Linked DNA regions of Homo sapiens: region 2 is linked to region 1. The links come from fine-mapping of genetic effects on gene expression. A gene starts in region 1. The other region holds a variant in brackets. All regions are shown on one strand. Distances are from middle to middle. Region 1 holds the start of ZNF384 (zinc finger protein 384). Region 2 overlaps ZNF384 (zinc finger protein 384).

Evidence for each region.
Region 2: its variant is fine-mapped to the expression of ZNF384 in whole blood (INTERVAL, PIP above 0.99).

The regions. Positions count from the first base shown.
Region 1 is chr12:6,686,834-6,692,207 of GRCh38, forward strand. ZNF384 (zinc finger protein 384) reads right to left here and starts at 2,542. Exons shown (of 12, transcript NM_001385745.1): 1 at 2,265-2,542; 2 at 1,334-1,393. It also overlaps a transcript of PIANP not described here. RefSeq lists silencers at 2,391-2,500, 2,581-2,660 and an enhancer at 2,394-3,020.
Region 2 is chr12:6,664,819-6,670,192 of GRCh38, forward strand. It overlaps ZNF384 (zinc finger protein 384), which reads right to left. Exons shown (of 12, transcript NM_001385745.1): 11 at 4,213-4,371; 12 at 1,659-3,297. The coding sequence ends at 2,896. Among named protein-coding and RNA genes, the nearest start is that of ING4, 4.4 kb to the left of the region's middle. The variant A/G (reference allele first, on the strand shown) is at 1,983.

The DNA.
Region 1 (5,374 bases):
CATAATTACAAAGGAACTACCCAAAAGTAACAAATCTATAGCCTCCGGTTTAGAAATCATCTACAAGTAGCATCAACAAGAAAAAGATGGAAAAAAACAATCAACTTGAATTCAACTACAGAAAGAACTTAAGACGCTATTGAGAAACCATTCCAAAACACACAACTGCAGAAAGGTTACCTTAGCTCAAGACTTGAAATGAAGAAACACAGAGAAAGTTTTTTTTGTTTCTCCAAAAGGAAACAAAATCTCTTTCTCTCAGGGTCTAAAGACATTCAAGAAGGGCCATCCCAGTAGGATGTGACGCTTTCCCGCCAGTATCCATAAACTCTTCCAAGTACAAGTAACTCAGAACAAATGCACCCCAATGTTACTGGGAAACATCATCACACCATACACAAACAAACTAAACAGGACTGCTACCACCACACAGCTGGCAACCTGGGCCAACAGCTTCTAGCCTGGGCACCACCGGACCACTTTACCCTGCATCCTGTGGGAGGGACGGCACGGTGGTTCTCCTTGCCCTGTCTGTTCCACTATAAATGATGGATCTGGGGAATGTGAGGCCAAAATAAATAAATAAGACTGGAGAAGAAGAGATATGTACCCAATATTTAATCAACAACTTGGCTCAGAAACCCACAGGGCATTTTATAAACCAACCTCTGGGATCATAAGTTCTGAACTCAAACTCTTTAGGTCCACTCACTGTCATTTTCAGGCTACCCGAAACTCTTCCAGACCTACTTCTGGAGTCTACTCCGTACAGTTTTATCCACTTCACTCCAGACTAACCATGAAGCAGTTTTTTTTTTCCCCTGAAAATTTCATCTTGCCATACCAAATTCAAATAACCCTGTGTCACAGATTCTAATCACTCCACAGACCCACTTCTAACACTCCACTGGACTATTTGGGATAGGAACTCCATTCTAAACTCAGCTCTGCTTGTTCCAGACACAGGAAAGCAATTCCATAAGGACTATATTGGCATTTAGGGTCTTTGTGTCCCAAAGCAGAATAAAGATTTCCCCTTTGGACACAAGGCAACACTATTCAGTGGCTTCACCTGAGCATTTCATATTTCATTCCTGATGAGCATTAGTAGGAATGGAAAGTGATGGGGGATAGCGCCAACTTTTTACACAAAAACTTCCTGACCCTCAAGAGATAATAGAAAAAAACTGATTTCTCTCCACAACAATCTCAGCATTACAATTGCTATTACTTTAAGTATTCTATCACATTGTGAAACACACACACGCCCCATTTGGTTGTGACCCCTTCTCCCCCAAAACCAGAAAAGCCATTAACCCAAAAATCATCTTACCCTCTCTCTCTCTTCCTCCTGCCGTCTTATTCCTTCTCCTTTCCAGGGCTCCTGAACTTTCTGTAAACAAATTGTCTAGGTTACAGGGGCCAGGCAGGGTGCAGCCACCAGAGAACTGTGGAGAACCTCAGGAATTATTTGTCAGCAGTCAGTCTGGAAGGCAGGCAGACCCCCCAGCCAGCAATCCAAAGACGGGTGGATATAATAACAGCAGTCTAGTGCTACCCTCTACGTGGATACAAGAGAAATAAATCCAATTCCCAGAAACTAAGACGAATTCTATCACCAGCGTTTGGGTTTCACTCCTAGGCTCAGAGACTGGTCCTTGTTCGTTCCCAGGCCACAGGTAACCAGGGGTCAGAGAACATTAGAGATGGAGGAGGAGGAGGGTCTGTGCCCCTGAGGAGTGGCTTCAGAAGGCAAAGCTGAGGGCTGGGGGATGCACAAGACCTTGTGGCAGGCACAGTGCCAGTTCAGGCCCAGCCACTTCCTCTAGCCTTCCCCCCACTTCTTCGAGGACTTCGCCCCCTGCCTACCCGAGGCCTTGTGCCAAGAAGTACCTCCCTCAGCCTGCACCGTGGTCTATCTACTGGAGACCCCAGCTGTCCCCTCAAAACCTTCGCTCCCCTGAGACAGTTCCTGGGAGCCTTCTCCTGATGTCGTCCCCTACCCCTTTCTCAAAGACCCTTCCTTGGGACGTCCCTCCTTCCCCTCCAGGGAGCTGAACTCTGCCACCCACCAGACAGGCACCCGCCCCCTAAACCCCCCCATTCCTTCCCATCGCCCGCTCCTCCACAACCACTTCCGGTTCCGGGACGGACACACACACAGTCACATCGTGGACCCCCCCTTCCCCGCCTGCCCAAGGAAAAGGGGAGGGGGGAGGAGCAAGCAGCTTGGCGCGCGCCGGCTGTAGCGGCGCGAGACTCACCGGGCGGCGACGGCTGCGGCGGCGCCAGAGCCTGAGCCAGGGCGCGGGAGGGGCGGCGTTTGCTGGGAAAGGAGGGAGCCGAGGAGGGTGGGAGGACCAGGAAGGGGCGAGGGAGGGGAAAAAGCGCAAGGCGCAGCGCGCGGGCACGCACTTCTGGAGCGAGACAGACCCACACACTCACACGCACGGAACGCGCGCGAGACACCCGCAGGGCGGGGGCGCGAGGTAGTGGGTGGCCCCCCCTCCTTGCTGCCCTCCCCTTGCACTCACCCGGAAGTGGTGCTGCAGCTCGTGCTCCCGCGAACCCCAGTTCCTCCACGCCCCCCTCCCTCCCCCCAACAGGCTCAGAGAAGAGCTCTGCGGAGAGAAGGCGGGAGCGCCGGAAACGAAAAGGGGGGAGGGAGGGAAATAGCAATGTAGGGGGGGCGCTAATGGAGAAAGAGGGGCGTGCAGAAGCCGAGTCACTTCCGGGAGTGGCTGGAACACTTCCGGCGCCGCTAGCGCTGCGAGATATTCAGGGCAGAAGTTACGATAACTCGGGGCGGAAATAGCTTCTGCCCAGCGACTGGGAAGAGGGGATGTGACGCTATAGCGGAAGTGAAGGCGGGTTCCGCTAGGGGCAAAAGCTGAAACCGGAGGACTCCGGCCCTGAGCTTCCGGAAGGGACATCTGGGGAAGGTGGGGGGGTGGAAACGCGACAGGTTCATGAATTATCCATCAAGGTAGGAGAGGAGGTGTGGGTTCTTCAGATGCTGGGACCCCGTTTCTCTTCCCTCTGGATGTTGAATAAGCTGATGTAGGAAATTACCATTATTTTTTCTGATACCCCCAAGAATGTCTCAATGCTTTGAATATGCGGGAAAGGACTAGGACGTATCCTTGTTTTTCGGAGGTCCCTACTTAGGTCCAGTTAGAAACTCTCCCAGCCATCAAAATCTGTCTCTCTGACACATCCCTTACTTTACTTTGGTCTTTTCTTGTTGCCCATACCCACATCTCTATCCCCTTACCCTGTTTTACTTAAATATAGCACTTATTACTGCCTGATTTATTGTTTGCTGTCCACCTCTCCCAACTAAAATATTGGCTACAGGACAGCGAGGACTGAATTGTTCGTTGCTGTATCCTCATATCCTGGCAGTTAAGTGGTCTGTAAACTCTTGTTGTATAAATGAACTATAGTTCATTATGAACACCTAAATATGAACCCTTTTAGGAAGCCTTGCCTGATTGCTCCAACCTGTAATGGTCCCTCTGAATTCCCATAGTATTTAATACGTACCTTTTATTGATATTTTAACTATTTCATACATGTGATTCCCCAGCAAGATTGTCAGTTCCTCATGGAAGGAAATACGTTGCTTTGCTGAGCATATAGTAAATGCTGAATATGTTGTTTGAACAAGTGAATGCTGTTACAAGCGTGCACCCCGACCTGGCCAGAATCCCCCTGGGCTCAGCTCTAAGCAGAACTGAGGTCTCTCCTACTAATGGTAAGAGCCTCTTGCTGAGAAAAATAACCTTTTTTTTTTTTTTTTAAAGACAGAGTGTCACCCTGTTGCCCAGGCTGGAGTGCATTGGCGCCATCTTGGCTCACTGCAACCTCTGCCTCCTGGGTTCAAGCGATTCTCCTGCCTCAGCCTCCCTAGCAGCTGGGATGACAGTCGCCCGCCACCACACCGGGCTAATTTTTTGTATCTTTAGTGGAGTCGGGGTTTCACCATGTTGGCCAGGCTGGTCTCGAACTCCTGACCTCAACTGATCCACCTGTCTCAGCCTCCCAAAGTGCTGGGATTACAGGCGTGAGCCACCACGCCCAGCAAAAAATAACTTTAACAGAAATAATTATAATGCTCATTTTACAGATAATGAAAATAAGCCTGTAAAGGATTAAGTGATTTTTTCCCCCAAGGTCAAAGCAAGAAAGTAACAAAGTACGCCTTTAAATATTTAAATAGATGATGCATTTCATTGTAATTGTAGTTTGTATCTTTTTTAAAGTGTCTGTTCCCTTTATCACATTTTTGGGCTCAGCACTCAGTCTCTGTTGACTGAGTAGCAACAGTTGGCAGAGTAAGGATTTTAAGGGCTCAGATGTGACCAGACCTATTGCTGTGTGGGTTAGAGATTGCTGATTCAAGAAACCTTGACATCAGGGGCTGGTATTGAAAGGTGGGAACAGGAAATAGTAATAATAGCTATACGTTCTGGTTCTCCTCCTGCTCTTTTCCTATTTATGTTAACTGGGCACTTCCTGGGTCTCCGTGTCTCCGTCAGCCCTATTCCTGCCCTTGCTATAAGAAGGAAGTTTCCCAGCTACTTGGGAGGTTGAGGCAGGAGAATCACTTGAACCTGGGAGGCGAAGGTTGTGGTGAGCCAAGATTGCGCCATTGCACTCCAGCCTGGGCAACAAGAACTAAACTCCATCTCAAAAAAAAAAAAAAGAAGTTTCAAGTGCTTTGAACTCCTTAGGGAAAAGCTTTAGAACAATAAATGTGGGGCGTAGGGGGAGGAGGGCTGTTAATTTTAGCCTGGGGTTCTCCAGCTGGCATACTGTTTCCATCTTGAATCACTTCCACACCCTAAGCTGTGCCTGGGAGATCCCTCCCTCCTCCTGGGGGCTTCCCCATTCCCTGGTTTGGTCTAAGCCGCAGTGGCAAGCATTCCAGAAAAATGCTAAGAGAAGCCTGGCTGAGTCATTTGATGCACAGCTCAGGAGGCAAAGAAAGGATGGTGATGAGACGCTGGTTCCAGTGGTGGCTGTGATGTGTGACCTCGAAGAACCTTCCAGTTCCCAAAAGGACAGCATGGCCATTGTTTTTTTCTTGGCTAGTGACTCTGCTGCAGCTTTCTGAGGACCTCTCAAAGCCCCACAGTCTCTGTTTCAACTACAGGAGAGAAAAGTTAGGGCTTGCTCCCCAGGGCCTTACGACTCTTCATGGCTAACGTGACAGTGCAGTATCATTTGGGAGAATTTTTTTAGTACAGTTCAGAGTCTGGAACAGTCTCCTTCCTCCTCTGTCTTTCCTGCCTTCTGACTTTCCATGGGGAAAGGAGGACATTTAGGAAGAGGGAACAGGTGAGGATTTCCAGTACCTTGCTGGTGTATT
Region 2 (5,374 bases), 22 kb before region 1:
GTAACTTGATCTCTGTGCCTGTTTTACTATACAATGAGACTACTACCTCCCTCATAGGGTTGTTGGAATAAGTGAGTGTGAGTGTATCCATAAAAAGAGTAGATTCTAGTTCTAATACTGGTGATGAAGTTAGGGCCATTAGGGCCTTTTCAAGAGTTGGTGAGAGTGGGAGGAAAAAGCAGTAAATATGCAGGGAGCTAAGAAACATTGGCATATTTGGTCATATGTGATACATTCATTGGTATTACACAACATATTGAGACACCATCTTAGGTGCCCACACAGGATATCTAGCACTAAATTAAGTGGGCTTTATTTATCCCAGCCCAACTACATAACAAGTACTATTGGCCAGCAGTCCCAGAGTTCTCAGGATGTGGGAGCTTGGTCACAACTTTCACAACTTTTTCGGTGCTTAAAGCAAGGTTTTTTTTTTTTTGTTTTTTTTTTTTTTTCCAGACAGAATCTCGCTCTGTGGCCCAGGCTGGAGTGCAGTGGTGCAATCCCGGCTCACTGCAACCTCCGCCTCCCAGGTTCAAGTCATTCTTCTGCCTCAGCCTGCAGCTGGGACTACAGGCGCGTGCCACCACACCTGGCTAATTTTTGTATTTTTATTTTACTTTTTTGAGAGAGAGTCTCACTCTGTCGCCCAGGCTGGAGTGCCATGGCACGATCTTGGCTCACTGCAACCTCTGCCTCCTAGGTTCAAAAGATTCTCCTGCCTCAGCCTCCTGAGTAGCTGGGATTGCAGGCGCCCACCACTATGCCTAGCTTATTTTTTGTATTTTCAGTAGAGACGGGGTTTCACCATACTGGCCAGGCTGGTCTCGAGCTCCTAACCTCATGATTCACCTGTCTCGGCCTCCCAAAGTGCTGGGATTACAGGCGTGAGCCACCGTGCACGGCCATCAATTTTTGTATTTTTAGTAGAGATGGGGTTTCACCATGTTGGCCAGGCTGGTCTTGAACTCCTGACGTCAAGTAGTCTGCCTGCCTCGCCCTCCCAAAATGCTGGGATTACAGGCGTGAGCCACCGCACCCAGCCTTAAAGCAAGTTACTTAATTCTCAAAAAAGGTATCTTCAGAGTTATCTAGTCCAATCCCTTCACTAACAGTTGAAGAAGCACCCTGGCCAACACTGGTTGATGGTAGGCAAAGGGCTGAAGTCCAGGTTTCATGACCACATTCTACTCCATAGTACTACAGCTCTCCTGCATAAATCAATCTTGCACCCCTTAACCGGTTATGATTTCCACAAGGTAACAAATACACATATGTATACACATTGCCAACTGCAAGCCCCTCTTCCACAGACTCAGGCAGGAGTGTAGGTCCTTTCAAGAGGCTTCCATTTTTCTTCCATAGGGAGCTTAGCTGTTTTGTTAACACATAACCAAAGCCTTGCTCTCACATATTTAGGCAATGCAATCCCCATGACAGAATGTGTATGTAGAAGTCCTCATAAACCAGGATTTCACTGGAGACATCATGAAACTGTACCCTTCCATGACTGGAGAATTGCACAAATGGGGCATCATCACACAAGCACTTGTTCATCACACACACACTCTGGTATAAATCCTCAGTACTGTTCTTGGACATCTCCCCAAATACCTTTTCCGCATGCTCGCTCACATCAGTAGCTCCACTGCCTCTGATCCTTTTACATGAATTTATTTCTATACAATGTTCTAAAAACACCCCTTGGTTTGTACATAAGTTTTTTTCTTTTTTTCTTCATTTTTAAATTACTTTATAACAACTGGTTTCCTGATTTTTTTTTTAATTTCCTTTCCTCTGAAATCTGCCATGATTTAAAAAAAAAAAAAAAAGACAAAAAGAAAAATGCTGTGGCTAGAGGACAGGGGTGGAGAGAGGGAAAAAAAGGACAAAAATAAACAAAACATCAAATATGAAAATTCTCAGAGATAATGCATTTATAAACACAGAAATGGTTACAACAAAGATGGCCGTGATGAGTG[A/G]GTATAATATATTTATATATATATATTTATATATAAATCCGTGTCCGGCATCTGACTGTGGCACCTAGGGAGCTAAGTCCAGTCCTTGCGTTTGCCTTGAACTCTCCCTTCTCCGCAACACCCCTGTTTTGGAGTTTCACAGATAACACAAAGCCTCCCACAGCTCCTTGGGGGTGGGTTGGGGAGACTGAGAGTATAGGGTCTTTGTAGGCAGAGAAGGAGAGAGGCTTCAAGGAAATCCGTAAAACCATAACACACACTTCTAAGCCACCTGTGACCAACTTGGGAATTTCTGGCCCCTTGGGGACCACATCTCAGCCCTTGCCCCCTTCAAATAAAAGGAGGTCTAGCCCCTACCCCAAATCTCCTTCTACCAGCAGTCAATAGGAAGCAAAGTGAGACGATGTAGGGGAAGAAATGGCTCTCAGGGACTGAGGCATTTGAGAAACCTCTGTTCTTTTGCAGGCAAGAATAGAACAAGAGGCTGGTTGCATTTGGGGCTCCCTTTTCTCTGTTATCTGGGAGGGCCAGCCTCTAGTCTTACATCAGCCCAAACTTTGAGGATAAGGAGGGTAAGGATAGGGTAAGTGGCCACACTGGACAAGGTTCTATGAGGTCATAGCAAATCCTTCCCTTGAGCACCGACCCCCAGTTTTAGAAGCTTTGCTTGGGAGGGGAGGCTGCTGGATGACACCATCAGCTCAGTATTCCTTTGCAATCAGGAGGGCTGATGTTCCTTTTGAAGAAGAGTTCAGAAAAAGGATGGTATCCTGTGAAGGAAAGCCGTGACAGAGGCCCAAGGAGATGGAGCCAAGGCCTGTCAAGGAAGAAAAGGACTTTTCCCACCAAGAGTTGGAGAAAGAAGACACCAGGACTACTTCTTCCTCTTCCCAGTGGGTGGCAGCACGGATCTCTAAGAGCTGGCCAGGTGCTCCACCTGGATGGTGCTGGTGGTGACAGTGAGGCAGATGTCCTTATGATGCTCCGCCGTCTTATACGGGGTCAGGTCAAAGGAACACTGGGGTGGAGGGTTGGGATTGCTGTCCCCACCACCCCCACCCTGGGGGGCTGCCCCAGGAGACTGGAAGTGTGGTGGTGGCTGTTGCTGCTGCTGCTGCTGCTGCTGCTGCTGCTGCTGCTGCTGCTGTGATGCCTGGGAGGCCTGGGCCTGGGCCTGGGCTTGAGCCTGAGCCTGAGCCTGGGCTTGAGCTTGAGCCTGGGCCTGGGCCACTGCTGCCGCTGCTGCTGCTGCCTGCACCTGTTGCTGAAGATCAGGCGGGTTGTGTTTGCGCATATGTTTCATAAGGTATGTTTCCTGAGGGAGATGGTAAAAAGAAGTTGAGGGATAAAGAGGAAGGAAAAGAGATTACTTGTAACTAGCACCCCAGGCTCTGATTCTGCTGTAAGCAGAGTAAGCTTTATACTGGTTTTCTGGAGCCAAGACTGAGCAAAACTCAAGTAGCACTTTCAGTGGCTCACTACTGAGAAAAAAAAGAGAGGAACCTTTAGAAGTCACTCAACATTCAACTGGCAAAGGAATGAGCTGCTATTTTTTTCAAAGACCCCTGAATGAAACAACTTTACAACCTTTTCTGGAGTCTCATGGAAAATATCTAACTGGGCCAGGTGCGGTGGCTCACACCTGTAATCCCAGTACTTTGGGAGGCTGAGGTAGGTGGATCACTTGAGGTCAGGAGTTTGAGACCAGCCTGGGCAACATGGTGAAACCCCATGTCTACTAAAAATACAAAAAGTTGCTGGGCATGGCAACATGCACCTGTAATCCCACCTACTTGGGAGGCTGAGGCAGGAGAATCGCTTGAACCCAGGAGGTGGAGGTTACAGTGAGCCGAGCCGAGATCACACCACTGCACTCCAGCCTGGGTGACAGGGCGAGACTGTGTCTCAAAAAGAAAAAAAAAAAAAAAAGAAGAAGAAAATGCCTAACTGAAATCCAGCTCCCCTCAAAATTTCAAGTGGCTTTATTTTGCCTTATGTTTAAGTAAAATGAAGAATTACAGCTTATGCGTCTCTATAGGATTAGGAGATCAGGCATCCCCTAAATTCCTCAGAATGGGTCTAATTAATTTCTGAATATTTACCTGTTCTGCTAAGTTGGAGCTAGGGAGGCAGGGTATTCACTGCAACAGATCTCTACCCAGAAAATGGGGTGAAGTGGACTGTACTCTTAGAGGACTATGAGGAAGGAGAGAAGAAACGGAGCACTCACTGATGTGTATGCCCGACTGCAGATAGTGCAGGTGTACACCTTGGCATGCTTCACTGTGTGCGTAGACAGGTGCACCTCTAGTGAGGCTGCATCCGTGTACGCCCGATGACAGTTGTGGCACTTGAAGGGTTTATCTTTGTTGTGTTGCCGTCTGTGGGACTGAGAAAATTGGGAGAAACCAGAATGAATACATTGTACTCTTTCCTCCTGCCCCCTTGACCTCGATGGAAAGCAAAAAGGTAGGTGTCAGGCCTCCCAGCTTCTCCCTCTATCTGAAGAAAGTAGAAATTGTTTCAAATGAAACTTGAGAAGCTACAGGCTAAGGGTGGAAGCATACCTCATGTAGCACATACCAGGATCCCAAGACAGCTTATGCCCGTCTCACCAGTCCAGTGGTTCTTAAAATGAGGCATGGGGATCTTTAGGGAACACTAAGACCTTCACAGGGGGCCCACAGGGTCAAAACTCTTTTTTTTTTTTTTTCCCAGATGAAGTCTCTCACTCTGTCGCTCAGGTTGGAGTGCAGCGGCACAATCTCGGCTCATTGCAACCTCCGCTTCCCGGGTTCAAGCGATTCTCCTGCCTCAGCCTGCAAGTAGCTGGGACTACAGGCACATGCCACCAGGCCTGGCTAATTTTTTTTGTATTTTTAGTAGAGACAAGGTTTCACCGTGTTGGCCAGGCTGGTTTCCAACTCCTGAGCTCAGGTGATCCGCCCGCCTCCGCCGCCCAAAGTGCTGAGATTACAGGTGTGAGCCACCGCGCCCAGCCAAATCTTTTCAAAATAATAAGACAATGTTTGCCTTTGTCTCTCTTGAACCTGGGAAGTTGCAGTAAGCTGAAATCACACCACTGCACTCCAGCCTAGGTGACCCAGCGAGCCTCTGTCTCAAACACGCACACGCGCGCGCGCACACACACACACACACACAAACACAAAGATGAAAAACCTAACTGAAATCTTGTTCCCCTCAAAATTTCAAGTGGCTTCATTGTGCCTTATGTTTTACATGTAACCCTTACAGAGGTTACATGATGTGTGATAACACAATAGGCCAGATGCAGCAGATCTGAGAATCTACTCATCTTCTAGCTTAAGACATTAAAGACCCCTGTGCCAGGTGCGGTGACTCATGCTTGCAATCCTAGCACTTTGGGGAGG